Homo sapiens: one gene and its partners. The protein of the gene in region 1 interacts with the protein of each later gene in a pairwise test. Each region holds a gene or a part of one and is shown in the gene's direction. Other genes may lie near its edges.

The links.
Region 2: the proteins of COX5A (region 1) and EPM2A interact in a two-hybrid assay, tested with the Homo sapiens proteins (one study listed by BioGRID).
Region 3: the proteins of COX5A (region 1) and SPDEF interact in binary tests that used the Homo sapiens proteins (3 or more experiments, as listed by UniProt).

Annotation. Positions count from the first base shown.
Region 1 is NC_000015.10:74,919,164-74,930,118, reverse strand, and holds the end of COX5A (cytochrome c oxidase subunit 5A, mitochondrial precursor), read left to right. Parts: intron 1-886; coding exon 887-1,003; intron 1,004-3,231; coding exon 3,232-3,353; intron 3,354-6,348; coding exon 6,349-6,462; 3' UTR 6,463-6,471; intron 6,472-9,676; 3' UTR 9,677-10,328; downstream 10,329-10,955. UniProt on the Homo sapiens protein: Component of the cytochrome c oxidase, the last enzyme in the mitochondrial electron transport chain which drives oxidative phosphorylation.
Region 2 is NC_000006.12:145,723,068-145,734,022, reverse strand, and holds part of EPM2A (laforin), read left to right. Parts: intron 1-10,955. UniProt on the Homo sapiens protein: Plays an important role in preventing glycogen hyperphosphorylation and the formation of insoluble aggregates, via its activity as glycogen phosphatase, and by promoting the ubiquitination of proteins involved in glycogen metabolism via its interaction with the E3 ubiquitin ligase NHLRC1/malin.
Region 3 is NC_000006.12:34,546,330-34,553,329, reverse strand, and holds part of SPDEF (SAM pointed domain-containing Ets transcription factor), read left to right. Parts: exon of another isoform or gene 1-912; coding exon of another isoform or gene 913-1,099; intron 1,100-7,000. UniProt on the Homo sapiens protein: May function as an androgen-independent transactivator of the prostate-specific antigen (PSA) promoter. Binds to 5'-GGAT-3' DNA sequences. May play a role in the regulation of the prostate gland and/or prostate cancer development.

The DNA of each region.
Region 1 (10,955 bases):
TTTGTTTTTGTTTTTGTTTTTGTTTGTTTGTTTGTTTTTTGAGTTGGAGTCTTGCTCTGTCGCCCAGGCTGGAGTGCAGTGGTGTGATCTCAGCTCACTGCAACCTCCGCCGTCCAGGTTCACGCCATTCTCCTGCCTCAGCCTCCCGAGTAGCTGGGACTACAGCCGCCCGCCACCACACCTGGCTAATTTTTTGTATTTTTAGTAGAGACGGGGTTTCACCGTGTTAGCCAGGATGGTCTTGATCTCCTGACCTCGTGATCCGCCTGCCTCGGCCTCCCAAAGTGCTGGGATTACAGGCGTGAGCCACTGCGCCTGGCCTATTCTTAGTTTTTAGAAGTGGGGTGTCGCTGTGTTGCCCAGGCTGGAATGCAATGGCTATCTTATCAGGTTCTGTCATATTGTTAGCACCCTACGACCTTGAACTCCTGGGCTCGGGTAATCTTCCTGCCTCAGCCTCTGAGTAGCTGGCACTACAGGTGTGTGCCCCACTATGCCCACCTGGGACATTTTTACTTAGGAATTAATACTCTGGTTATGTGTAAAAATTCAAACAATATGGAAGTATATAAAGTAGTTTTTACGTCCCATGATAATCACTGTTAATTTAAAATCAGAGGGAACCACTGTTAATAATTTCAAGCGAGTATTATACATTAGGGAGAAAAGTATAAACATGCCTATGTAATACTTTTTGTTCTACTTGATTTTATTTGCTTAATTTAAAATATATCTTTCTGTATCAATGTATACGATGTATTTCATTTGACCTGTTCAATATTTTTGCTGCCACAACATATATAGTCAACTCAAAATTTAATGCATTGAACAAAATATATCAAGTACTATTTGTGTACATTGAAGTTATGGTTCTTTCACATTATAGCTATCCAGTCAGTTCGCTGCTATTCCCATGGGTCACAGGAGACAGATGAGGAGTTTGATGCTCGCTGGGTAACATACTTCAACAAGCCAGATATAGATGCCTGGGAATTGCGTAAAGGTAATTGGAACATAAACATATTTGTCTATTTTGGTGTGTAAATATGAACTGCTTCTGCTCCTTTATTGAGAGCAACTGTTTCGAAAACATGCGTTGTTTAAACTGGTTACTTCATGCAACTTGCAGTTAGGAAAGTTTATGGCTACCTATAAAGCAGGATTTTAAGGCAGGCACTATTGACATTTTGGGCCAGATAATTCTTTGTTGTAGGGGACTGTCCTTTACACTGTAGGGTGTTTAGCATCACCTTTGGCCTCTACCTGCTAGGAGCCAGTATGCACACATTCGTATCATGACAACCAAAAATGTTTCTAGGCATTACCCAGTGTCTCCTGAGGGATGAAGTCACCCTTAATTGAAAACCACTGCTATAGCAATAAGGCTAGATGAGCAAAAGGTAACAGTTTTGTACATTTCAAACAATTTACATAGCACGGGCGCGGTGGCTCACGCCTGTAATCCCAGCACTTTAGGAGGCCAGGGTGGGCGGATCACGAGGTCAGGAGATCAAGACCATTCTGGCTAACATGGTGAAACCCCGTCTCTACTAAAAATACAAAAAAATTAGCCGGACGTGGTGGCGGGCGCCTGTAGTCACAGCTACTCGGGAGGCTGAGGCAGGAGAATGGCGTGAACCCGGGAGGCAGAGCTTGCAGTGAGCCGAGATCGCGCCACTGCACTCCAGCCTGGGCAACAGAGTGAGACTCTGTCTCAGAAAAAAAAAAAAGAATTTACACAAAGCAGTCATTTGGTTCCCTTCCCCTTTGGGTGATGGTTTGGGTTTTTTGTTATTTTTGCATTGTTTTGCCATGAATAAGTATCTAAGTAAGTTAGAACTTGTCTTTCCTAAATTTGCAGATGCACACTTAACATGAAAAAATAGAATTAGGTGTAGGGTAATTTATCTCATACCAAAAATTCAATCTCAATGACTATCGTATTCACTGGTATCCTTTGTTTAAATATTTTAAAGTAATAAAAGCAAGAAACCTAAGTGCTTTAAACTTCTCTGCAGAAATGTAATGATTCCCTTTTGCTACAACCAATAGAATTCTTACTGAACAATCTGGAGTAGAAGTAATAAAAAGAACAATTATGTATTCCCATTAAGAGAATCTTAAATTTTATTATGTGTCATTTTGTGCAGATCTGAAAGTAATCATGCCCAATCATTTTCTGGTTGAATGTTTATGAGTCTGTGTACTAATGTTTCTCTATAATATCTCCTTAATGTCCTCATTTAGGCTTCATTAACTCTACGCATTTCTCTGGCTGTTTTTAGGCTGTTTTCCAGTTGAATCTCTTTTATTTTGGTTTTTTTGTTTGTTTGTTTTGTTTTGTTTGAGATGGAGTTTCTCTCTTATTGCCCAGGCTAGAGTGCAATGGCGCGATCTCAGCTCACTGCAACCTCCACCACCTGGGTTCAAGTGATTCTCCTGCCTCAGCCTCGAGAGTAGCTGGAATTACAGGCATGTGCCACCACGCCCGGCCAATTTTGTATCTTTAATAGAGACAGGGTTTCTCCATGTTGACCAGGCTGGTCTTGAACCCCTGACCTCAGGTGATCCACCTGAGCCCAGCCTTGAATCTCTTTTAAAGCATCCAAAATGTGTTCATTGTACTAAGAGTTAAAGATAGGAGGGCCGGATGTGGTGGCTCATGCCTGTAATCCCAGCACTTTGGGAGGCCGAGGCAGGTGGATCACGAGGTCAGGAGTTCAAGGCCAGCCAGGCCAAGATGCTGAAACCCCGTCTCTACTAAAAATACTAAAATTAGCTGGGCTTGGTGGCACCCGCCTGTAATCCCAGCTACTTGGTAGGCTGAGGCAGGAGAATCACTTGAACCCAGGTGGCAGCGGTTGCAGTAAGCTGAGGTGGCACCACTGTACTCCAGCCTGGGTGACAGAGCAAGACTCCATCTCCAAAAAAAAAGTTAGGAGTTGAAAATGACCCTCTTGTTCTCAAAGGGGAAAAAAAAAACTCAGGATTTTTTCCTTCAATCTGCGTGCTGTTGCATAGTTCTTTCTTTCCACTGATTCACTAAGGGAGATCCACTGTGATCTTATTATCTAGAATTTGTTAAAGGTAGGTTTCTCTCATTTTATAGGTAAGAGAATGGAGACCCAGACAGATAAGATCATACATCAGTGATTCAGTAAAAATATAAATAACTCATAGTTTAAGTGAGGCTCTTCGAGGTTGACATGGCCCTTCTTTTTAATTTTGCAGGGATAAACACACTTGTTACCTATGATATGGTTCCAGAGCCCAAAATCATTGATGCTGCTTTGCGGGCATGCAGACGGTTAAATGATTTTGCTAGTACAGTTCGTATCCTAGAGGTTGTTAAGGTCAGTGAAATAATAATGCTAAAATTGTTCTGTAAATGAGTGGGCTATTGCTGAGGTATCAGAATATTCTGTATTTTTGAATTTGTTAAAATGCCTAAAATGAGTCCTTATATAACTAGAAGGAATGTACATTGCAGTTAAAATCTTTCTAGAGGCTACTTTGGCAGCATTTATTCAAGGCCTTACAAATTGTACATGATACACTTTTGTTCAGCAATTCCATTTAAGAATTTATCTTTTTTCTTTTTTCTCTCTTTTTTTTTTTTCTTTCTTTTTTAAGAATTTATCTTGGCCGTGTGTGATGGCTCATGCCTGTAATCCCAGCACTTTAGGAGGCTAAGGCGGGTGGATCATGCAATGTCAGGAGTTTGAGACCAGCCTGGCCAACATGGTGAAACCCTGTCTCTACTAAAAATATAAAAATTAGGCCAGGCGCGGTGGCTCACGCCTGTAATCCCAGCTCTTTGGGAGGCCGAGGCGGGCGGATCACGAGGTCAGGAGATCGAAACCATCCTGGCTAACACGGTGAAACCCTGTCTCTACTAAAAATACAAAAAAATTAGCCGGGTGTGGTGGCAGGCGCCTGTAGTCCCAGCTACTCAGGAGGCTGAGGCGGGAGAATGGCGTGAACCCGGGAGGCAAAGCTTGCAGTGAGCCAAGACAGCGCCACTGCACTCCAGCCTGGGTGACAGAGCAAGACTCTGTCTCAAAAAAAAAAAAAAAAAAAAAAAAATTAGCTGGGCATGGTGGCACATGCCTGTAATCCCAGCTACTTGGGAGGCCCAGGCAGGAGAATTGCTTGAACCCGGGAGGCGGAGGTAGCAGTGAGCTGAGATCGCACCATTGCACTCCAGCCTGGGCAACAAGAGAGAAACTCCGTCTCTAAAAAAAAAAAGAAAGGAATTTATCAAGGAAATAATAAAGGATATATAAAGATTTAACTACAAAGTGTATTCATCTTCTTGCTATTTGTCATACGAAATGTTAGGAATTCTTAAGAGGGAGCTTCCCAGAACTGGTTATACTACACAACTGTTGATACTGTAGAAATGTGTTTGACTTTAAACATATTTGTGTCGGCTGGGCACGGTGGCTCACGCCTGTAATCCCAGCACTTTGGGAGACTGAGGCAGGTGGATCACCTGAGGTCAAGAGTTCGAGACCAGCCTGACCAAGATGGAGAAACCCCATCTCTACTGAAAATAAAAAATTAGCCGGGCGTGGGGGTGCATGCCTGTAATCCCAGCTAGTCGGGAGGCTGAGGCAGGGGAATTGCTTGAACCCGGGAGGCAGAGGTTACAGTGAGCCAAGATGGCACCATTGCACTCCAGCCTGGGCAACAAGAGAGAGAAACTCCATCTCAAAAAATATATATATACATTATATGAAAACATAGGAGGATATATACTAATTTTCCTCCTTCTTATTTGGTCATAATTTCTGAGTTTATTTATTTTTTCGAGACAGAGTCTCACTCTGTCGCCCAAGCTGGAGTGCAATCATTGCGTGATCTCAGCTCACTGCAACCTCCGAGGTCTCCTGGGTTCAAGCAATTCTTCTGCCTCAGCCTCCCGAGTAGCTGGGATTACAGGCTAATTTTGTATTTTAAGAGACGGGGTTTCTCCATGTTGGTCAGGCTGATCTCAAACTCCTGACCTCAGTTGATCCGCCCGCCTCAGCCTCCCAAAGTGCTGGGATTACAGGCGTGAGCCACCACGCCCGGCCGGCACTTTCTTAGTTCTTTTGACTTCTTATTCGTTCCTAAGGAACCTTGTGACAGCACAGGTGTAACTATATATTACAGTGAAAAGTCTCCAGCCCTGGACATATGTATTCTCAAAGTACAGCTCTCCATGAAAAGATACTGTGGTCTGTAAGAAAGAAACTTAAGGTCCGTTAACAGCAAAAGTGTGACATTACTTTATCTATAATGGGTAAGATAATTAAGGGTTCTGTAGGCTATCAATCCATTCAGCACTGGTAGTTAATTCAGTTAAGGTCTCAAATTGGAGGCAAATGAAAAAACTTTTCCCGTTAACTTAATTATTCGTGTTGCCTGCTGGGCATGTCTAATTGCCTTCACAAAATTCTGTCATCACTACCTTCTTTTCCAGTAATTCTAGACTTTAAGATGTTCTGGATTTAGTCCAATTGCAGTTATTCTCAAGGTATTTCAAAAGCCTACCTTGAACAGTACATATATAAGTTGCCCTCTTTATTTTTATTTAATTATTATTATTTTTTTGAGACAGAGTCTCGCTCTGTCCCCTAGGCTGGAGTGTAGTGTCATGATCTCAGCTCACTGCAACCTCCGCCTCCCTAGTTCAAGCATTCCCGAGTAGCTGGGATTACAGGGGCGTGCCACCACACCCAGCAAATTTTTGTATTTTTAGTAGAGACGGGGTTTCACCATGTTGGTCAGGATGGTCTCGAACTCCTGACCTTGTGATCCACCCGCCTTGGCCTCCCAAAGTGCTGGAATTACAGGCATGAGCCACGGCACCCAGCAAGTTGCCCTACTTACCGAACAAATGTGTTAACTTAAAAGTAGATGACCTGTTTTGTTTTGTTTTGTTTCGTTTTTTGAGATAGAATCTTGTTCTGTCACCCAGGCTGGAGTGCAGTGGCGTGATCTTGGCTCACTGCAACCTCCGCTTCCCGGGTTCAAGCCGATTCTCCTGCCTCAGCCTCCCGAGTAGCTGAGATTACAGGCATGTGCCACTACACCTGGCTGATTTTTGTATTTTTAGTAGAGACGGGATTTCACCATGTTGTCCAGGCTGGTCTCGAACTCCTGACCTCAAGTGATCCGCCCGCCTCAGCCTCCCAAAGTGCTGGGATTACAGGTGTGAGCCACCATGCCCAGCTGATCACCTGTATTATTCTGTCCTACCTGCCTCTGCATAAGTAATTAAAGGCATTTTTAAGTTCATTTCATGAATTAATAGACATGGCTTTTGAGAGAGTTAAATGTGAATATTCTCTTTGCCATCAGGACAAAGCAGGACCTCATAAGGAAATCTACCCCTATGTCATCCAGGAACTTAGACCAACTTTAAATGAACTGGGAATCTCCACTCCGGAGGAACTGGGCCTTGACAAAGTGTAAACCGCATGGGTAAGCGACAAACCACTGAAGAAGGCAGGAAAACAATCCAGAGAGGTGTGGGTGGATGACATTTCAGTGTGCTATAGTAAGACCTTTCAGTGTTCTTGTTAGAGGTAATGGCCGTGAGCATGAAGAGATTTTGAGAATACCAGTAATGGTAAATTTAAAGAACTGAAATGATTTCTAGTTGTTGTCATTATTTTCTTTCTTTCCTTCTTTTCTTTCTTTCGTCTTTTTTTTTTTGAGATGGAGTCTTATTCTGTTGCCCAGGCTGGAGTGCAGTGGTGCAATCTAGGCTCGCTGCAGCCTCCGCATCCTGGATTCAAGCCTCAGCCTCCCAAGTAGCTGGGACTACAGGCCACATGCCACCACAACTGGCTAATTTTTGTATTTTTAGTAAAGACGGGATTTCATCCTGTCGGCCAGGCTGGTCTCAAACCCCTGACCTCATGATCCACCTGCCTTGGCCTCCCAAAGTGCTGGGATTACAGGCTTGAGCCACCGCGCCCGGCATCATTATTTTCTTACTGGTAGAAAGACAAATAAAAGCCACCTTAATTAAAGAAAAATCTTCATACAATATTCTAGGCATAAACAGTAGCATAGATGATAATATAGTGAGTCTGTGTACACATATCCAGATTTTCAGATACTTTTATTGTTGCCACATTTGCTTTGGTGTGTTTAAAGTATTTCTATTTGGGCTGGGCACAGTGGCTCACGCCTGTAATCCCAGGACTTTGGGAGGCCGAGGCGGGTGGATCACAAGGTCAGGAGTTCGAGACCAGCATGGTGAAACCTTGTCTCTACTAAAAATACAAAAATTAGCTGGGTGTGGTGGCATGTGCCTGTAGTCCCAGCTACTCGGGAGGCTGAGGCGGGAGAATCACTTGAACCCAGGAGGCAGAGGTTGCAGTGAGCCGAGACTGTGTCACTGTACTCCAGCCTGGGTGACAGAGTGAGACTCTGTCTCAAAAAAAAAAAAAAAAAAAGACTCAACTTGGCTGGCAGCAATGGCTCATGCCTGTAAGCTCAGCACTTTGGGAGGCTAAGGTGGAAGGATTGCTTGAGTTCAGGAGTATCAGGAGTTTGAGACTGGCTTGAGCAACATAGTGAGACCCTGTCTCCTTTAGTTAATTAAATACATACATACATAGAAAGAAAAATATTCAGAATTCAAGGAATTTTTATATTCAGTCTTCCTGTTGAGAAACTGAACAGAAAATGCTGAAAACTTTGTAATCTACTTTTAAGATTTTTTTTTTTTTTTTTGAGACGGAGTCTCACTCTGTCACCTAGGCTGGAGTGCAATGGCATGATCTCGGCTCACTGAACTTCCGCCTCCCGGGTTCAAGCCGATTCTTGTACCTCAGCCTCCTAAGTAGCTGAGATTACAGGCATGCACCACCATGCCCGGCTAATTTTTGTATTTTTAGTAGAGACGGTTTCACCATGTTGGCCAGGCTGGTCTTGAACTCCTGATTTCAGGTGATCCACCCGCCTCAGCCTCCCAAAGTGCTGGGATTACAGGCATGAGCCACCACGCCCAGGTGGGATCTCGTTTTAAAGCTTGCTTTAACGGAGTGGTCTTTTTGTTTGTTTTTGTTTAATTTATTTATTTTTAATTTTGTTATAGAGACAGAGTCTCACTATGTTGCCCAGGCTGTTCTTGAACTCCTGGGCTCAAGTGATCCTTCCACCTTGGCCTTCCAAATTATTTGGGTTTCAGGTGTGAGCCAAAAGCAATGGTCTTTTCATTTTATCTTTGTCCACCCCCTCACCAGCACAACCTCCCTGAAGTAGCTCATCTTTATAATATATGCAATGGTTTTGACTTCTGTGAGTACTTAAAGAAAACTAGTTGTTCAGAATGGAAATTTTCCTAGTTATACTTTTGAAGCTCTTGTTTGTTTTTTGTTGTTGTTTTGAGACGGAGTCTCACTCTGTCGCCCAGGCTGGAGTACAGTGGCACGACCTCTGCTCACTGTAACCTCTGCCTGTTGGGTTCAAACAATTCTCATGCCTCAGCCTCCCTAGTAGCTGGGATTACAAGTGCCCACCACCATGCCCGGTTCATTTTTGTATTTTTAGTAGAGACCGGGTTTCGCCATGTTGGCCAGGCTGGTCTTGAACTCCTGACCTCAGGTGATCCACCCGCCTCAGCCTCCCAAAGTGCTGGGCTTACAGGTGTGAGCCACCGCGTCTGGCCCTGTGATTGATATTCTTTTTCTTTTTTTTTTTTTTTTTTTGAGACGGAGTCTGGCTCTGTCACCCAGGCTGGAGTGCAGTGGCATGATCTCGGCTCACTGCAAGCTCCGTTTTCCAGGTTCACGCCATTCTTCTGCCTCAGCCTCCCGAGTAGCTGGGACTACAGGCACCCGCCACCATGCCCGGCTAATTTTTTGTATTTTTAGTAGAGACGGGGTTTCACCGTGTTAGCCAGGATGGTCTCAAATCTCCTGACTTCGCGATCTGCCTGCCTCGGCCTCCCAAAGTGCTGGGATTACAGGCGTGAGCCACCGCGCCCAGCCCTGTGGTTCATATTCTATAATGAACTCCTAAAAGATGGTTTTAGTTTTCATTTTATCAAGTATTATTCCAAGGGGTCCAGAAGATCTTTTTTATGTAGGATATATTCTAGCTATACTAACTTTTTTTCTTTTTTTCTTTTTTTTGTTGGGAGACAGAGTCTTGCTCTGTCATCCATGCTGAAGTGCAATGAAGCGATCTCGGCCCACTCCAACCTCCGCCTCCCGGTTGAAGAGATTCTCGTGCCTTAGCCTCCCGAGTAGCTGGGACTGCAGGCATGGGCCACCACACCAGGCTAATTTTTTGTATTTTAGTGGAGACGGGGTTTCACCGTGTTGCCCAGGGTGGTCTTGAACTTCTATGCTCAGGCAATCCATTCGCCTCGGCTTTCCAAAGGGCTAGCGTTACAGGCATGAGTCACCGTGTCCGGCCCAAAAAAAATTTCTTTTGTTAAATGGCAGCTACTGGACACTTTTCTGATTGGGAAGGAAGTACCAGTGTATAAACAACAAAAAAGCCACAAAGCTAGTCGCTTGTGGGTTGACAGTAGGCAGGATTAAGTAAGAGCAGTAAAGGGTACAGAGAGACAGTGATTTCCCTGGTTGTAGCACTAAGGGTTATTTTTAAAAGATTTCTACTTTTTCTTTATTCTTTCCTGGCTAATTCTTTGTGTTTTCTCTTACAGATGGGCTTCCCCAAGGATTTATTGACATTGCTACTTGAGTGTGAACAGTTACCTGGAAATACTGATGATAACATATTACCTTATTTGAACAAGTTTTCCTTTATTGAGTACCAAGCCATGTAATGGTAACTTGGACTTTAATAAAAGGGAAATGAGTTTGAACTGAAATTAGGTATTTGTTTCATGTGTTTGCATTAATAAGCAGAAAATTAAGTGCTGTATTGGTTTCATGGTTTTGCTGCCCTCTTACATGCTGAGAGAACTGTGTTAATTCTCTGGAAACCATCTGACATGAAAATCAGCTTCATTAATATGTTTGGGTGCCCTAGCTTGTAAATTAGCTGAAGGCTAGAAGTCATTTATATAGAATTTTCTTGTTGACACCCTAGGCTTAGGGGACTGGTTGTCTGTGGGGATAGATCAAATTGTGTACCTTTCCAAAACAGGTTTTAATGATGTTTAAAAGTGGTCACTGAGATAGTCTTGAGGATGTGCTATGCAGTAGCCAAGCCCTCTTACGGTGTGTTCCTCTCTTAGTGCCCCTTTCCTTTCCTACCTGTTCTTCCCTTGCAGTGGTGTATTAGCCTTGGACATTAAAACATTTGCTTTGTAAATTTGGAGGCATTCTGATTAAACAGCTGAGTAAAACAAATCCTGCTTGTCTTAGAAGCGCCATAATACTAGAACCAGCTGCTGGATAAAGAGGTTCTAGATCTGGGTGACTTCTAGTATAGCCAGTCCAGACTGCAGTATTAGGGAAATTGAATTAATATTAGCTTGAAATTTAGATGTCTTCTCTCCTAGAGCCATGTAAGGGATTGTTATTAAAATCAGTTTTGGTGAAGTTCTAATACTAGTGAGACCTTTTATAAAGGCTGATCCGCTACCAGAAAACCCCCTGCCCAGTTTTTAGGAAGTAGAAATGTGAAACTAAAATGGCACATATTTTTAATGTATAGTTGGTAGGCCATGGTTCTTAGGTTTGATCCCACTGTGGGCCAGCGCTTTCCTCCTCACTGCCATAAAAATGGTCTCGTTCCTCATGTCATGGGAGGAGCAGAGGAAGGAACATAGGGTCACAGTTATCTATGAGGGTGAGATAAATGCTGTGATGGTCTTCATGCTACAAAAATTTGTCGAACACCTACTGTCTAACAAACATGCCAGGCACTGAAGGTAAAGCAGTGAACAGGAGAGACAGTGAATATTGGAACCTGGAGACACTGGAGGTAGGGATAAAAGTTAGGCACAGTGTGGTTATAACTTAATGGGGATTTTG
Region 2 (10,955 bases), on another chromosome or scaffold:
TAAAAGGGTGATTATCTAATGTCGGCTCCCGCCAACAGTGTCTGAATTGAGACAGCTCCTTTCTTTAAAGGAAATGTGCAAGGTTGTAGACTGGAGTGGGTGTGACTCAATAGTTGAAGTCAATGAAATGAATGTCTCTTTAGAAGTTTATATGAAAAAAAAAATGGGCCATTTAGCCTGTAATGATGTAGAAACAAAGAATCAGTAAAGAAGATTAGAGTGGAATGTGTTTATATATTATCCTTGTTCTCCTTCTCTACCTCACTGGGCTTATGGTCTGGTAGCATTTATTGGTCTGTTATTTTACCATGACAGAATTGAAAGATACCCTCTTCAGTTTATCCTTTCTTTACAGAGTATTACTATTTTTCATAGTATTGTAGAATTATTTTTTAAAATAATATCTGATAATTGTAATAAAAATGGAAATGGTGTGAAACAAAGATCTTCCCTTTCCCTAGTTATTTAGCTTTTCTGATAGTCCTCCCTATGCCGTTAATAGTTTGCTTATGTTGCTATTTCTTAAGGTACCACAAACTTTTGTTTTTAATTTTTCTAATAGTTACCATATAAGTTATATATAATTTTAAAAGTTAAAATTAGGCAATAGATATTGACACCTACTGGATGCTCATAAAATTAACCATCACACTTGTTATGAAATATGAGGAATTTAGCTCAAGTTCACTCTCTGTCTTCCCTGCTGATTTTTTTTTACTATTATTTTCAGTTTTTTTGATAAATATTTTTCTTTACTATCCAAGCAGGAATTATTTTCAGTTTTGTATTAAAAATTGACTGTTGACTTTCTAGGAAGTTACTCCTATAAGAGAGGATAAGAAAAATATTACAATTTCTTCCTGTCTCACTTTGGTTTATTATGACTTTTACATTATCAAGTTTTATATAATTTATATTCTATTTTCTAATTGTTACAGTGCCTTCTTGTTTAAGGTAAATAGACTGATTCTAAACATCGTAAATTAACAGAGAGCTTTATGAGAAGCAGGGTAGCCAAGTGTTTAAGAGCAAGGATTCTGGAGCCAGATTGCCTGGGCTCACCAACCAGTGTGGGATTTGAGGCGTGTCACCTCAGCTCACAATGAAAGGACCAAGCTGCCTAATAAATGAACTGTATTTTGTAGAATAGGATATATATTAAGAACTTACAAGAGGACATATGGTAAATGTTAAATAAGGGCTAGTTATTATTTTTTACTATGATTATTGGGAAACCACGTTGTGCAATTAGACTCGTAAACAAGGAAATAAAATTTTGTGACATGAAAACTGTACCACTGCAAGGAAAAATTCTCTTTTCTTCACTATAAATCATGTTCAGATTTTACTTAAAATGGTACTAGAATTTGTTTTACTTCATATTTGGACTGTAATGTTCTTCTACAACTTATTTAAAAATTTGTTATTAATTTTTTTAACAGAAGAGTTAAACCAGTTCTCACAATGTCCTAGCTTAATTGCACTACTTGATGAATGCATATTGCTTATTTCTTGGAAATAGAATTTTTTCCTTGAAGAATTAGGATTCCTGTTCTAATTTTCACTTTTCACTAATATATGGCTTTCTGATATATATATATATATATATATGTGTGTGTGTGTTTCTGATATATGTATCAGTTTTATATAAAATATTGACCGTTGACTTTCTGTTACATAGAAAGTTCATTCTCATAATCCTATTATGCAGGAAGTTACCCCTATATGAGAGGATAAGAAAAATAGCTTACTTACACATTCCTCTCCCTTCCTTACTTTGGCGCGCACACACACACACACACACACACACACACACACACAAGTCTTAGCTGTAAACCTGAGACTTTAAAGAAAACAATCGAACTCCTATGTTAGTTGCACTGTTTTAAATGGTATATCTTCCTCTTTCTTAAAAACCTTAATCATTTCTTTGGAAAATTTTCAAGAAATGGTAAAATCAGAGAGAAAATATCTGAGCCCTCAAATTCCTAAAATGTCTTTATTTGGCTTTCCCACTTGATTGATCATTTGGTACAGTATTCTGGTCTTAAAATAATTTTTCCTTTGAAGACTTTGCCTCAGTAATTTCTAGCTGATAATTATCAGCTGTGGCTGATAATTCTAATGTGAAACTAAGCCCATTCCTGTTAGCAGTCTGTTTTATCACTTGGCACTTGGTTGGCTCTTTAAATTCCAGGAATTGTTTCCTTCAACTCAGGGAAATTTTCTATGATTTCTTTCTCTTTTTTTTGTTGTTCATTAAAAAAATTTCTTCTAAAAAATGACATATATGTGCAGAATGTGCAGTTTTGTTACATAAGTATTATACATGTGCCATGGTGGTTTGCTGCACGTATTGACTCATCCTCTAAGTTCCCTCCCCTCAACCCCCACCCACCAACAGGCCTTGGTGTGTGATGTTCCCCTCTCTGTGTCCATGTGTTCTCTATGTTCAACTCCCACTTATGAGTGAGAACATGTGGTGTTTGGTTTTGTTTTCCTGTGTTCTCATTAGTCATTGGGCACTTAGGTTGGTTCCATATCTTTGCAATTGTCAATTTTGCTGCTATAAACATACATGTGCTCTGTAGTCAATTGTTTTTTCAGGATGGCTTTTTTATTCTATTGATTTTTCTCCAGTATCTGGTAGTCCTTGGATATCCATTCATTTTTATGAATGAAGGATATGCTGATCAGTAGGGGTAGCTGTGGTGGTTTTCTGTTGAAGTTGTTAGGTTTATTGAAAACCTCCTCTAAATGGGAGAACACTCCATGGAATACTGTGTAATTTGGCAGATTTTGTTAAGGATAAAATTCCGCTCAGGGTGTGTGGCTGGGGAGCCAGCAGGCTTAAGATCGTTATCATTGGCAAAGTAAAAAGAACTTGATCATGAGGTGGGATAATTTAGTATATTTTATTGTTGAATGGAGTTTCCTTTTTTTTTTTACCTCTAGGTCTGTCGTGTGGGTCTGTAGACATCACAGGATTTGTTTCACCCAATCTCCAGCTCCTATACCCACACTAGGGTCCTTTCCAGGAAACCCTTTCCCTGCTGTGTTTAGAGCATGCTTATTCCATGTTGGTGATGGGAAGGGGTTGAAGGAGGCAGGTGGGAAACCTTTCTTTCAACTCCTCTCCAGGCTGACATGCGTTTATTTGTTAGGTTTCCTCTTTCATGTTGCTTTTCTAGAAGACCTCCCTAACTACCTACTGATTCTTTCTCGTAACATCTGTTCCTTTTTCTTATATCACTTATTACAGGCTAAAAATCACATTAACTATGCTGGATTGGACTCTTTAATTGCAAGTAACAGAAACTGAATGTGAACCAGTCTAAAAATAATTTTAAAAAAATCAATTCATGTAACCAAACTGAAAGAAGCATGGAGTACAGCCTCTCTCTCCTCACTTGCTTTCTAGCTCTCACTCTCTTGTTCTCAGATTTGCTTTTCTCAGGTCTTGGCTTTATTTTCTCAAGATAATTGACTCTGTCAAGCTAGGCTTTCCCACAAGAAGCTCAGGACTATATGCCTAAATTGGATGTCACGTGCAGTGTCACACTGTATTCTCTTGGCTTTTCCCTTAAGGCAACAAGATGGCTGCTGCAGCTCTGTTCATCACATGTGCATTTAGTGGAATAAGGGAGAAGAAGGAAGAGTGGAAGAATCATCCTTAGGTATTCCCCATAATCTAGGAAGCAAATGTTCACCAGAATACCTCCACACTCCCACTTTGTTTTATGTTTAGAATTGGCCAGAACTATTGTGTTTGACTACCTCTGCTGCAGAAGAGACTGGGTGTATTAGTCAGTTCTTGCATTGCTATAAAGAAGTAGCTGAGATTGGGTAATTTATAATGAGAAGAGGTTTAATTGGCTCATGGTTTCACAAGCTGTACAGGAAACATGGCTGGGGAGACCTCAGGAAACGAACAAATATGGCAGAAGATGAAGGGGAAGCAGGGACGATCTGCATGGCTGGAGCAGGAGGAAGAGAGAAAGATGGGGAAGTGCTACACACTTTTAAACAACTAGATCCCATGAGAACCTACTCACTATCATCATGAGAATAGCAAGGGGGAAGTCCACCCCCATGATTTAATCACCTTCCACCAGGCCCTTCCTCCAACATTAGGAATTATAATTCAGACATGAGATTTGGGCAGGGACACAAATCTAAACCATATCATTCCACTTCCAGCCCCTCCCAAATCTCCTGTCCTTCTCACACTGTAAAATACAATCTTTCCTTCTCAACGGTCCCCCAAAGTCTCAGCTTATTTCAGCATTAACTCAGAAGTTCACAGTCCAAAGTCTCATCTGAGACAAGGCAAGTCCCTTTTGGCTAGGAGCCTGTAAAATCAAAACCACTTAATTACTTCCAAGATACAATGGGGGTACAGACATTGGCTAAGTACTCCCATTCCAAAAGGGAGACGTTAGTCAAAACAAAGGGGTTATAGGCCCCACACAAGTCCAAAACCTAGCAGAGCAGCCATAAAATCTTAAAGTTGCAAAATAATCTCTTTTGACTCCATGTCTCACACCCAGGTAACATTGATGTGAGGGGTGGGCTTTCAAGGCCATGGGCATCTCTGCCCCTGTGGCTTTGCAGGGTACAGCCCCCATGGCTGCTTTCATGAGCTGGTATTGAGTGTCTGTGGCTTTTCCAGGCCCACGGTGCAAGCTGTTGATGAATCTACCATTGTGGTGTCTAGAGGACAGTGGCCTTCTTTTCATAGCTCCAGTAGGCAGTGCCCCAGTGGGAACTCTGTTTGGGGGCTCCAACTCAACATTTCCCCTGTGCACTGCCTTAGTAGAGGTTCTCACTGAGGGCTCTGCTGCTGCAGCAGACTTCTGCCTGGATATCTAGGTGTTTCCAAATATCCTCTGAAATCTAGGTGGAGGCTCCCAAGCCTAAACTCTTGCCCTCTGTGCACTAGCTGGCTTAACATCACATGGAAACTTCCAAGGATTATGGCTTGCACCCTCTGGAGCAGTGGACTGAGACATATTTGGGACCCTTTTAACCAAGGCTGGAGGTGGAGAAGCTAGGATTCAGGGAGCAGTGTCCTGAGGTTGTACAGGGTAGTGAGGCCCTGGGCCTGTGAAACTATTTTTCCCTCCTAGGCCTCCAGGCTTGTGGTGAGAGGGGCTGCTATGGAGGTCTCTGAAATGCCTTCCAGGCCTTTTCTACATTGTGTTAGCTATTAATATACAACTCCTCTTTACTTATGCAAGTTTCTACAGCTGGCTTGAATTCCTCCCTAAAAATGGGTTTTTCTTTTCTACCACATGGCAAGGCTGCAAATTTTCCAAGCTTTTATGCTCTGCTTCCCTTTTAAGTATAAGTTCCAGTTTCAGATAATCTCTTTGCTCATAAATATGAGCATATGCTGTTAGAAGCAGCCAGACCACACCTTGAATGCTTTGCTGCTTAGAAATTTCTTCCACCAGATACCCTAAATCATCTTTCTCAAGTTCAGATTTCCACAAATCTCTAGAGCAGGAGCACAATGCTGCCAGTCTCTTTGCTAAAGCACAACATGAGTGACTACTGTAGTTCCCAGTAAGTTCCTTATCTCTAGCTGAGACCACCTCAGCCTGGACTTCACTGTCCATATCAGTATCAGCATCTTGGTCACAACCATTCAACGAGTCTCCAGGAAGTTCCAAACTTTCCTTCATCCTCCTGCTTCCTCTGAGTCCTCCAAACTGTCCCAACCTCTGCCCAACACCCAGTTCTAAAGCTGCTTCCACATTTTCAGGTATCTTTATAGTAATGCACCTCTTCCCAGAACCAGTTTTCTGTATTAGTCAGTTCTTGCATTACTATAAAGAATGACCTAAGACTGAGTGATTTATATAGAAAAGAAGCTTAATTGACTTATGATTCTCCAGGCTGTACAGGAAGCATGGCTTGGGAGGTCCAGGAAACTTACAAACATGGCAGAAGGCAGAGGGGAAGCAGGCACGTCCTACATGGCTGGAGCAGGAGGAATAGAGAGAAGGGGGAAGTGCTACACACTTTTAAACAACCAGATCTCATGAGAATGCACTTTCACAAGAACAGCAAGGAGGAAGTCTGCCCCCGTGATTCAATCGTCTCTCACCAGGCCCCTCCTTCAACATTGGGGATTACTGTTCGGAGATGAGATTTGGGTGGGGACAAAAATCCAAACCATATCACTGGGAAAGTGCTTTATTTAGGCCAGCACATTCCTTCCCTGAAAAAAATTAGGGTAGTGATTACCAAGAAGAATGAGTAGAGTAGATTTTAGGTAGGCAGCTAACAATGCATGCTACAGTTTAAAACAAAAATATCATGTACAACATTTATTTGTGTATTTATTGGTTTTTGTCTCCTACCAGATTGTAAACTCTATGAGTGTAGGGACTATGTGTATTTTATTCATTCTTTTATATCCTGCAATTGTAGTTGATACATAGTAGCTGCTCAGTAAATATTGGTTGAATGAATAGAGCACAGAACAGAAACGGAGGTTTTTTTTTTTTATCATGGGCTAATTACTTCTTAGGTGCTTTCAATTAAATTACCCTTTGTCCTCACAACAACACTGCAAGGCAGATATTCATTTCTCTGTTATATAAATAAGAAGATTGAGGCTTTCTTCTAGGTCTAATCTGCTATGAATCCCATCCAGTGAAATTTTATTTTCAGATACTGTATTTCTCATCTGTAGAAGTTCCATTCAGTATTCTTGTGCATCTTTTTCTTTTGTTCTCATTTAGCTTATGTTTTTCTTTAAATTCGTGACCATGTTGAAGATATAGCCAGTGTCCTTATCTTCTCGTTTCCTTATATATGTCATATTTGGGTGTGGTTTCTATTGACTAATTTTTCTAACAGTTATTGATAGTATTTGACTACTTCTTTCCATGCCTTTTTGAGTAACCATAGCTGAGCTTTATTTGTGGATTATTTTAAGGTATGATAAATTATATTACATGTATTTTTAAGAATAAACTGTTCAGAATAATTTTAGATTTACAGAAAAGTTGCAAAGACGGTACAGAGTGTTCTTATATACTCCTTACCCAGTTTCCTCTGTTGTTAATATTTTATATTAGTATGACACTTGTGATAATTAAGGAACCAATATTGATACATGATTATTAACTAGGATCCAGATTTCATTCATATTTCATTATTTTTACTTAACATACTTTTTCTCTTCCAATACCTTATCTATATGACCACATTACATTTATTATGACTGTGATAGTTTCTCAGACTTTATGTATTTCTGCAATGACCTTAAAAGTTTTGAATAGTATTCATCAGGTATTTTGCAGAAAGTTGCTCAATTGGGATTTTTCTGGTGTTTCTTTCTCATCATTAGACTTGGATTATGGGTTTTTGGGAAGACCATCAAAGTAAAGTGCCTTCCTTATTACATCATATCAAGGATCTATACTATTAACATGACTTACTACCGTTTGTGATGACTTTGATCATGTAGTTGAAGTCATATTTGTTAGTTTTCTCTGCTGTAAAAGTTGTGTTTTCCCCATATTTCCATACTGTAGTCTTTCAGAAGAAGTCACTGTGCAGTGCTCACGTTTAAAAAGTGAGAAGTTATGTTCTGCCTGCTTGAGGGCAGAATATCTACATTAATTTTCTGGAATGTATTTATATGGAGGATTTGTCTCTTCTCCCTCATTTATTTACCTATTCAATTATTTATATATATAGGAATTCACGGATATTATTTTATACTTTGGTTTAAATATCTTACTACTTTATTTTCTTGTTCAGTTTATTTCAGGTTTGGCCATTGAGTACTCTTTCAGTGACTTCTCTTTTGTGTCTCTTTGACATCCCCCCATCTTTGTGTGTGTGATTTTTAGTTTGTTTTTGAGCACTTCCTTACTTTCTGGCACTACAAGGTGCTCTGAGATCATCTTTTATGTCTCCTTCCTCCACGCTAAAATTGGACATTTCTCCAAGGAGCTCTGTTTGATTTTATTGTAGAATGATATTAGAAATCAAGATCTGGGCAGTGAGTGTGCCTCTTCCTTCTGGGATATTGTTGCTTGTAGGCCTTCTTAGCTGGCAAAACAAAGAAATATACATTTATATTAATTATGTATATATATGGGAAATATATTCTTTGTAATATAAAGTTCTGTGGATTTTGATGATGCACAGTGTCATGTATTCATTATGATAGTCTCATTTCGACTAGTTTCACCTCCCTAGAAACTCCTCTGTCTTTTGTCTATTCAACCCTTCCCACTCCTCAAACCCTTGGCAACCACTGATCTGTTTACCATCTCCATAGTTTTGCCTTTCCACAATGTCAAATAATTAGAATCGTACAGTGTGTAGCCTTTTCAGACTGGCTTGTGTCACTTAACAATATATTTAATATCTATCTATGTTTTTTTCTGTAGCTGTAATTTCTTTTTATTGCTGGATGATGTCCCATTATATGTATGTTCCACATTTTGTTTATTTGCCTATTGAAAGACATCTTGATTGCTTCCAGGTTTGGGTGATTATGAATAAACATTGGTGTGCAGATTTTTGTGTAGGTATGAATTTTTATATCAGTGGGTAGATATCTAGGAGTGGGTTTGCTGAATCATGTGATAAGACTACTCAGCATTGTAAGAAACTGCCAAACCATCTTTTAGAGTGGCCTAGTATTTTTCATTTCCACTGGCATAGAATGAGAGTTCCTGTTGCACATTTTCATCAGTGTCGATGTTGTTAGTGTTTTGGATTTTAACTACTGTAATAGGTGCATAGTGGTATCTCATTGTTTAGATGTGCAATTCTGTAATAAATGATATTGAGCATTGTTTCATATACTTATTTGCCATCTGTATATATTCTTTGGGTGTCTGTTCAGATCTTTTCATTTTTAAATTCATGATTTTTAAGAGTTCTGTGTATATTTTGGATACAAGTCTTTGAGAGATGGGTGATTTGCGAATATTTTCTCTCAGTGTGTGACTTATTTTTTATTGTAGCAGTGTCCATTGCAAAACAAAACTATTAATAAAATCCAACAACTTTTTTTTTCTTTCATGGATTATGCTTTTGGTATTGAACAAAAAAACTCTTCTCCAAATCCAAGGGCGTCTAGTTTTTCTCCTATGTTATTTTTGGAAGTTTTTACATATGTATATATTTATAAGCCATTTTCTGTTAATTTTTATGTTTTATATAAGGTCTGTGGCTAGGTTCTTTTTGCTCCCCATATGGACATCCACTTGTTCCAGCACCATTTTTTGAAAATACTGTCCATTATTTTTTAAATTGTCTTTATTAGAAACCACCTGACTTTATTTGCATATGTCCATTTCTGTGCTCTCTATTCAGTTCTATATGTCTGGTTTTTTTGAAACCAGTATCACACTCTGTTCATTACTGTAGGTTTATACTAATCTTGAAATAGTGTAGTGTGAATCTTCCAACTTTGTTCTTGTTCTTCAAAATTGTGTTGGCTCTTGTTGGTCATATGCTTTTCAAAATACTTTTTAGATTCAGTTGTTGACTTGTACAGAATAGCTTGCTGTGATTTTGTGTTGAAGCTATAGATCGAGTTCAGAAGAACTGACATCTTAACAATATTGAGTTTTCAAACTTATGAACATAGAATATTTCTCCAGTTTTGTTAGATTTATACATAAGGGTTTTTGGTATGCTATTTTAAATAGTATATTTAGTTTTTCTTAAACAATTAAATTTCAGTTGTTCTTTGCTGATATCTAGGAAATAAATTAACTTTTGTATCTATTGATTTTTGTTTGCATGCTGGCCATTGTAATTTCCATTGTTTCATAGAATTTGGATTAGTTTCTGACAGTTAAGTTACTTGTGGATTAGCTTGTTCTATGTAAGGTTCCTCTTGAAGGTTTACAAAGGCAGGTCTCTAGGAAGGTTAGTGCAGCCCCACTATTAAGCAATGAACTCTGGGTTCTTTACTGAATGCCTCATGTATTCAGTGCCCCAAGATTTCCTCACTTTGTCTGGTGGAGACTAAAATGTTTCCCAGTTCTGTGTAAGCTCTGCAAGTTGTCTGGCTTACAATTTTCAGAAATTTTTCTTTTCTTTCTGTTTGTTCTTTGTATGACTCTGTCAAAGTTTACGTTATGCATCCACAGATTGACATGCAGCCAAAGAATCTAGGAAACTTTTATGCAGATTTATGGACTTCTTTGTCTGCATAGCTTTCTCATCTCTGGTATTTAACTCTCACTTTGTTCTCCCCAAATGTGAGAGTAAAGTCCCACATCCCTATGTCATGGTTTGGAAATGCCCTGAAGTCAGAAATCCATGGCATTTATATCATTCATCTTGTTTGTTTTCTTCTCTTAGGGATTATAGTCCTGTACTGCCCTTTATTCAACATTCAAAAACAATTATTTTATGAATTTTGCCATTTTTCTAGTTGTTCTTTTTGTTGGCAGGAACAGAAATCTCTACTGATTTTAAAAAATTTTGCAGGCAGGTATTTGTCCAGCATATTCTTAAATTTTTTGCAAAATAATAAGTCTTGATTTTGTTATTTAACTTATTTCTAATTCTTTTGGTATACTTGTGTGTTTTTGTGTTCTGTGTGTATGCATATGTATATAGTCTAAATTATATCTTTCTTGTGAAATTAGATTATTTGTTTTGGAACTCTCTTCCTTCATGCTGAAAATCCTTAACTCTAATTATAATGTGCCATTAGATTGACATGTCCCCACTCAGTGATACTCTGGGTGAGGTTTTATATTCTTAGATTTTAATGGCCATAAATTCAGCCTTCTAATTATCACTATTTTTTTACTCCACTCTTTCATTTGTCCTGCACAAACTGTAATTTACCTTCATTTCATATTACCTTTTGTGCTACAGCATTTATGTTAGAGCATATTTGATATAAAAATTTTGAATCCTTAAATAATCTATTATAATTTAAGAAGATTAAACAAATC
Region 3 (7,000 bases), on another chromosome or scaffold:
GCCCTGGGCTCTTCCTGACATTTAATGCCAAGCTCCTTCTCCTGGCTAGTTTGCATGTTTTCAGCCTGGGAGGTGCCCCCTGCCAGATTCTGCTCTCCCACCTCTCAGCAGCCGGGGTTGGGGGTGGGTAGAAAGGGGCCTCCAGACTTGGGGAGGGAGAGGCTCATCCTTCCTCCCCAGCCAGGGACCTTAGTGTGACTCTGCTGGGGGTCGGATGGGACCGGGACCTCCCCAGGATTATGACGGCGCACCACCAGGATAAAGACCCCCCTCCTTCTCCCTCTAGCTCTGGCACAGGGGAGACGTGGCTGGAGGGACTGCCCAGCCCGGGGCTCCAGCGCCTGAGACTGGTTGCGGGGCAAGGCCCAGGCCTCTCTGCTCCTGGGGTAGCAAGTTGCTTTGAGGGCTGCTGGGACCTAGCTCCTCCTGCCCCACCCTACCCTCTGTGCCAGGACAAAAGGGGGATGTGTCTCTGCTGACACTTCACAGGTGGGAACCGGTCCTGATAACCCCTTAATAACCCACTCCCACCCATCTCAACCTTGTTTGAAGCAATTTCTGTTCTTAGCCTGTCAGGACAGTTCTTTCTGGACTTTTCTCATCTGTGATGTTGGAGTCCTTCACTTTGTCCTAACACCCCTCTCCAAGCCTGGAGGTGTGCTCCAGGGCCTGAGGATCAGGGCGCAGGAATGTTTTTTCCCTTCAGCCCATCAAGATTTTACAGACCAACAACCAGGTGTGTGGAGGGCCTCTGCCTTCCCTGGCCTGTGCTGGGTCTGGAGGGGCCGCAGAAACACGGCAGATGGAGACAGCAGTCACCACTGTGGACACACACCTCTCGGGAGACAGTGAAGCCTTCTCACATCGCTGTCCTGCCTGGTGACTTCAAAATCCAGACACACAGCTGTCTTTATGAGTCCCTGTTTCACTGCTGAAGAGGCTGAGGCCAAGAGGATCGGCCAAGGGGCCTCAGGCAGGAGCAGCAGAGCTCCGGTGACATCCGTGTGTTCTCATGCCCTCAACGACCCTGCTGGGCAGGGCTGTGGGGAGCAAGAGACCCAGGAAACCTCACGACCCCTGTCCTGTGGCAAGCTGGGAGGTACGGCGTATGCGGGGCTGGAGGAGGGTAGGGAAGAGGGAAGGTACTGTGGCCGGCCCTTCAAGGAGTGTACCGGCGATTTGGGGGTGAGGACGAGACTGTGCCAGAGAGGGGCAGCCATGTGACCCGGGCTGCATCATGGCAAAGCGGGGATGTGCAGGTGGTGGGGGTATGGCAGCCTTGGTGTGGCTAAGAGGCCTGACGGGGGCACTGAGAAGTGAAATGTATTTATATACACATGGGCTCAACCAGGGCTGAAGGAAGACGTGAATGGCAATTTCTGGAAAGCCCTGAAGGTTGAGCGGAATTGTAGTTGCTATGGTGGGAAACTGGGTTCTGTCCCCGCCCCGTCAGCATGACTCACTGCAAGCCCCAGGTTTGTCTGGGCTGGGGTCCCTGCTGGCTGGAGGAGGCGGGGAGGCACTGCTGCTGGGGTGGGAGCCAGGCCTGATGGGCAGCTGGTGAGGTGCAGGACAGCCTGAAGCTGGCTCTGCTTCTTCAGAAGGGTGGGCTGAGTCTTTCAGAGCCTCCAGACATCAACTCCAGGGACAGCCACACCCCTCATCCTGCCAAAAGTGTCAGCTGTAAATGGAGTATGCCTTTGCTTACAAGGGAGCCCCAGGTGTCCACCTCTGCGTCCCCACCATCCTTCTTTAAGTCCCCAAAGCCAGGCTGATGGCAAGATGAGGGTCATGGATCGTAAAATCCAGGCAGTGCCAGGGCTAACAAAGTCCTCAGAGATGACCTGGCCTACAGAGCAGGAGACTGAGGGCTGGAGGGACCAGGGACTCACCCAGGGTCTCTCCTATGGAGGGAACAGGGCAGGGTGTCACCTGCACCTCCTGAAGTGGAGGTCTTCGTTCTTTCCAGTCCACATCCCCTTTTGGAGTAAACTCAGCCACGATGGTCCACTTGGGGCTGCGGTGGGCCTCTGTACCTCCAGGCTGCGGGCACCTGTGCTACCCACACCCCACTAAGGCAACTGCTGTGGGGCTGGGTTGGCAGGTGGCCTGAGCAGAGGCAAAGGGGATGGTCAACAGGGGCAACCTTAGGAGCTAGAAGATGCCGGGTCTGCCAGCACCAGCAGAAAGGAGGGTGGAGCCGAGTCTTGAGTTCGAGTCCCTGCTCACTCACGCATGGACAGGTGCCCCGTAGCAGGTCACAGCGCCCTTGTCCGTCAAGTGGGAATAATGCTGGCTGCCCCAGCTGGGAGGGCCCGGCAAAGCAGTTTATTCAGTTTGACCTTCCTCCTGTCCCAGAAAGCGCTGGAAGTAGTGCCAGTGAGGGTGTGTGTGGACACCCAGGCTGCCCATGCAGCAGGGCACAGAGGAGGCTTCACTGATGCAATGTGTTCCTGCTGCCCGTGGGAACTGTGGGAAGAGAAAAACCACTGGGTTCCCCTGGCGCTCCACTTTGGCTTCCAGTGCCCCGTCTTCCTGCTACGTGGCCCCGCCCCCAGCTTCCACCTGCCTCCCGCCCCACAAAGCCTCACCCACTCCCCTGTACTTCCCCCAACAGACCCCAGCTCCTGGGCCCACTAGCTGGCTCCCCAAGGTGAAACTCACACAGATCAGGGCTCCTGAAGAAGTTGTTAGGGGGACAGTTGGCCTGGACAGTTTTGTGCCCAGAGGAGGTGGGGAAAGCCCGGAGATCTAGAAGAAACCCACCTCGTCTACTCATGCTGAGTCCAAGACAGCAAGATCTCTCTCACTCAGTCACCTCCCTGCTCTCTTCTTCTGCCCTTGGAGACCCTGGGGAAGCAGGTGCTTGGAGATGGCCACAATGGGGTGCTTGAGAGAGGGCAGGAGCTGCTGGCCCGAGGTGGCAGCCTGGGCCCCCTTCCTGGGCAGCGGGGTGGTCTGTCCAGCGGGCAGAAGTGGTGCTCTGGGCAGTGAATGGAGGGCCGTAAGGAAGGGGTCTGGCACTTCTCTTGGGTCCAGCTAGTTTGAAGAGCAGTTTGAAGGGTGAGGTTGCAGCAAGGTCCTCCCTGTGGAAGGGTTGGAGGAGCAGAGAAGGGGTGGGAGGAACAGCAGGGCAAGAGAGAGGCTGGGGCCCCAAGGGGATGGGGCAGGGCAGGGGTCAGGGTGTTTGGAGAAGCCAGACATGCTACTGCGGCTGGGCCTGGTCATGGCTTTGGCTGGGACTTCCTGAGGCCTGGGTAGCCCAGCTTTTCTCCAAGGTGCTGACCAGGGCAGGCCCATGTGGCCCCTGCCCACTCTGCATGGCTCCTGGCCAAGACCTGGCCTCACCTCCACAGCCCCTGACTCCAGCCCATTTAAGGGGACCCAGGGACTTGGATGGATGGAGGGAGGGGCTGACAGACAGCTCAGTAGGCCACATGGGAAAGCCAGAGGAGGTCTGTTCCCCATCAGACCTCTTCCTCCTGCAGTGAGGCCGGCTGGGGGCTGAGCAGCAGGGCCAGAGTGGCCATCTCTGTCACTCCCTCAGTGCTCTTCTCAATGGGGACTAAAGCTGGGGTCTTGGGCTCTGGGCGGGCTGGCATTGGGTCTCAGGATTGAGGTAGGGGTGAGGATACATTTACCCCACACCACCATCTCCCCAGGAGGTAGGGCCTGAGAGCCGGGACCAAGCAGGATATGGAAGACAGGCTCCAACCCGCACAGCGACCTGGGTCCTTAGCAAACGCCTCCCAGGTGACTCCATTCCCGGAAACTGTGGTTCGGGAGCTGTCAGGGAGGGCATCTTTTGCTGATGCCAGTTGGGGTGTGGGAGTGAAAACCTGGGAGGCAAAGGGTTCAAGGGGCACATTTCTAGCCCCGAGGGGTGAGAGTAGGCAGGGTAGTGGCAGGAAAAGCTGCACTAAATCTCTCCTTTTGGGTCCCTCTGCTCACTTTCCTTAATCTTCCTTCCTGGGGGAATGGAAGGCGCTGAGAGAAGGGGCCCAAGGTGGCTAATCCCCCTGGCCGCCACCCCACCATTCTGCTCCTGTCTCTGGGCCTTGGCCTCCACCAGCTGTTACCAAACTTTCTTTGTCTGGAGTGGGATCTGGGGCCTCTGGAGCAGGAGGGAGCCAGGACACGCTGAGCCTTAATCCAGACATGTGGCTTAATCCAGAAGAGATCAACTCGAGGTTTGGGAGCTGGAGGCATCGCTCAGGAGACGGCAGCCCGTGGGACTGGCAGGCCAAGGCTGCAGGAACGCTGGGTCCTGCCATCTGAGGACCCTGGACATGGCAGACACCTGGCACGTCCCAGGACCCTTGGCCTACGGAGCAGTGGCCTGAGTGTCAGGAGGCCTCTGGTCTGGCCCTGGCTGTGCTGTGTGACTGTGGGCACCTCCCTGCCACTCTTTGAGCCTGAGCTTTTCCAGTGCACATGTGTCCCCATGGGTGGACCATCACTGATGGATTTAATCCTGGGCTGAATTGCATGGCACAGATGAGGCGAGCCTAGGAAGTCGCAGGAGGGAGCTATTAGGGAGGGCTCGCTGGGGCAGGAGGGCTTTGGGATGAATTGTGATGAGAAGGAAAGGGCATCTTAGAAAATAGCCATGTTGTGCCCACAGCACAGGGGCAGGTATGAAATGCCATTCTCATTAGAGCTTGGATTTGTGGTCACTATGTCAATCCCTGGTTCTGGTCCGGACCCTGCTGCTAATAAGCACATGAATCCCTTCCCCACTCTGGGCTTCATTGTTCCCATTCTATGAAACAATCACATAATATATGGCCCCTTCCAGCTCTGATTATCTGGGCCAGGTAGGAGGTAGACTCAGAGGTAGGCACCAGCCACTGGGATGGGGCAATGGGGAGCCATGGGAGATTCTTGAGCACAGGGGTGTCTGATGAAAGGGTGCTGCAGGGATATGAACAGTGGGGTGGAATGAAGAGCCAAGAGGTGGGGACAGACTTTAGAGCATCAAGGAGCCCAGTCAGGAGGTGGGCAGATCCCCTAGGAAGATGGGACTGGCCAGAGCATGCACCTCAGAGAGAATGTGGTCCAGTGAGCAGAACCCACACCTGGCCAGGAAGAACCCTGGACAAGCTGCACAGCCTCCCTGAGCCTCACTGTCCGCATCTATAAAGCAGGGCTCTGGAGTCCACGTCACCCTGGCTGTGGGTAGGAAAGCGGGTGATGTGGGTGAAAGCCTGGGCGTGGCACTGGTGCTCACTGCCAGGGGCTCACAGTGCCGTTCTCTCTTCTTCCCTCCTGAGGCCAGCCCAGAACCTTGAGACGCCTAGTTGCAGGTTGGGCACACCAGCCCTGGCTGCCTGACCAGTAAGCCAAGCCCCCCTACTCTAGGCCTGGGCTGCCTTGGGGACGGAGCATTCCCCACCACCCCTGATCTGCAGAGAGTCGAACCTTTCCTCCAACCACACAGTTAACCATTAACTTATTTTTCATCAGGGAAGTGTTGGAGCTAGGACCGAGGCTTGGTGGGGAGTAGATTCCTTGGCATTTAGGTATAGGGCAAGGTCAAGCTGGAATGTGGGGTATAGAGGGTGAAGGAGCCCGAGCCAGGAGTCAAAAGACCTGGATTTGGGGATTTACCTCTCTGCACCTTGACTTCCCCATTAGCAAAGTAGGGATGAGAATAAGACCTGGGCCAGATGAGGTAGCTTGTGCCTATAATCCCAGCAGTTTGGGAGGCTGAAGCAGGGGGATCACTTGAGCCCAGGAGTTCGAGACCAGCCTGGGCAACATAGTGAGACCATGTCTCTACAACAGATTTTAAAAATTAGCCAGGCATGATGGCACACACCTGTAGTCCCAGCTACTTGGGAGGTTGAAACAGGAGGATCACTTGAGCCCAGGAGGTCGAGGCTGCAGTGAGCCATGATCATGCCCCTGCACTCGACAGAGCGAGACCTTATCTCAAAAAAAGAGAGAGTAAGGCCTGTGCTGCCTTTCTCCTGGCAAGGGGATGGATGTGAGGGCTTCACATGCACTCAGCAAATGTGTCAAGGATGTGTCATTATATGCCTTCCTGGCAAAAGCTGCCACCTGCCCTGCCCATTCATCCCCACCGACCCCACACAACCATGCCTGAAACACAGCAGCTGCCTCCTGTCCTACCTGTGGCTGAGGCCAAGCAAACAGGAGGGCCACAAGGGAAGCGAGTTCTGCTTCTTGGAAAAGCTTCTGTCTCCCTGGCATGGCGCCCAGGGTGTTGGCAGAGACTGTCCTAACGTGGCAGGCATGGGGGCTCTGGGGATGTGGACGGGGCAGGAGGCAGGCAGGGGGTGATGAAGGAGGGGTGGGGGGCTGCGGGGGGGGGTCCCCAGGGGTGGAGCCACCTAGCGGGTAGGGCATGGGCACCAGGCAGGGTGGGGCCCAGGGGCAGAGCGAGCTGTTGGCACTGCCTGAGTAAATAATGTGGGCCCACAGCACACACGAGTGTTTGCACAGAAGGACTTGAAATGATTCCAGGTCTGCCCTCTGTCCCCCACATCCCCAGCCCCGCCTTGGTCTCTGCCCACCCCACCCCACCCTGACCTTTCCTTCCTTGTCACTTAAAGGAGCCCTTGAATGGGAGAGTTGAAATCAAAGGGAACACCCTTCCCTCCTGCTGGCATTTTCTCCACCACAGGAAGCTGCAGGGCTGCCATGTAACACTGGGAAGGTTGGGCACTGCACAAGGAGGGTGGGCAGAGGAAGCTGAAATTCTACCTAGGCTCCATTCGTCAAGCTATGCTATCCAGGGGGAAGGGATGTCATTTTCTGAGTTGTGTGAAATTGAATGGGCTAGCTGTGGCCCTACCGAAGTGGAGGTGTCTTCCAGACTGGGTTCTTTCCCTTGTCCCACCTGCAGAAGCAAATGCCAGCTGCATACGGAGGCTGCGCGGGTCAGTCTCACAGGGTAACTGGAGATGGATCAGGGAGCCCCCTTCCCCTCCTGCTGTCCCAGTAGGGCACCATAAATGTCACTGTTAGAGAGGAT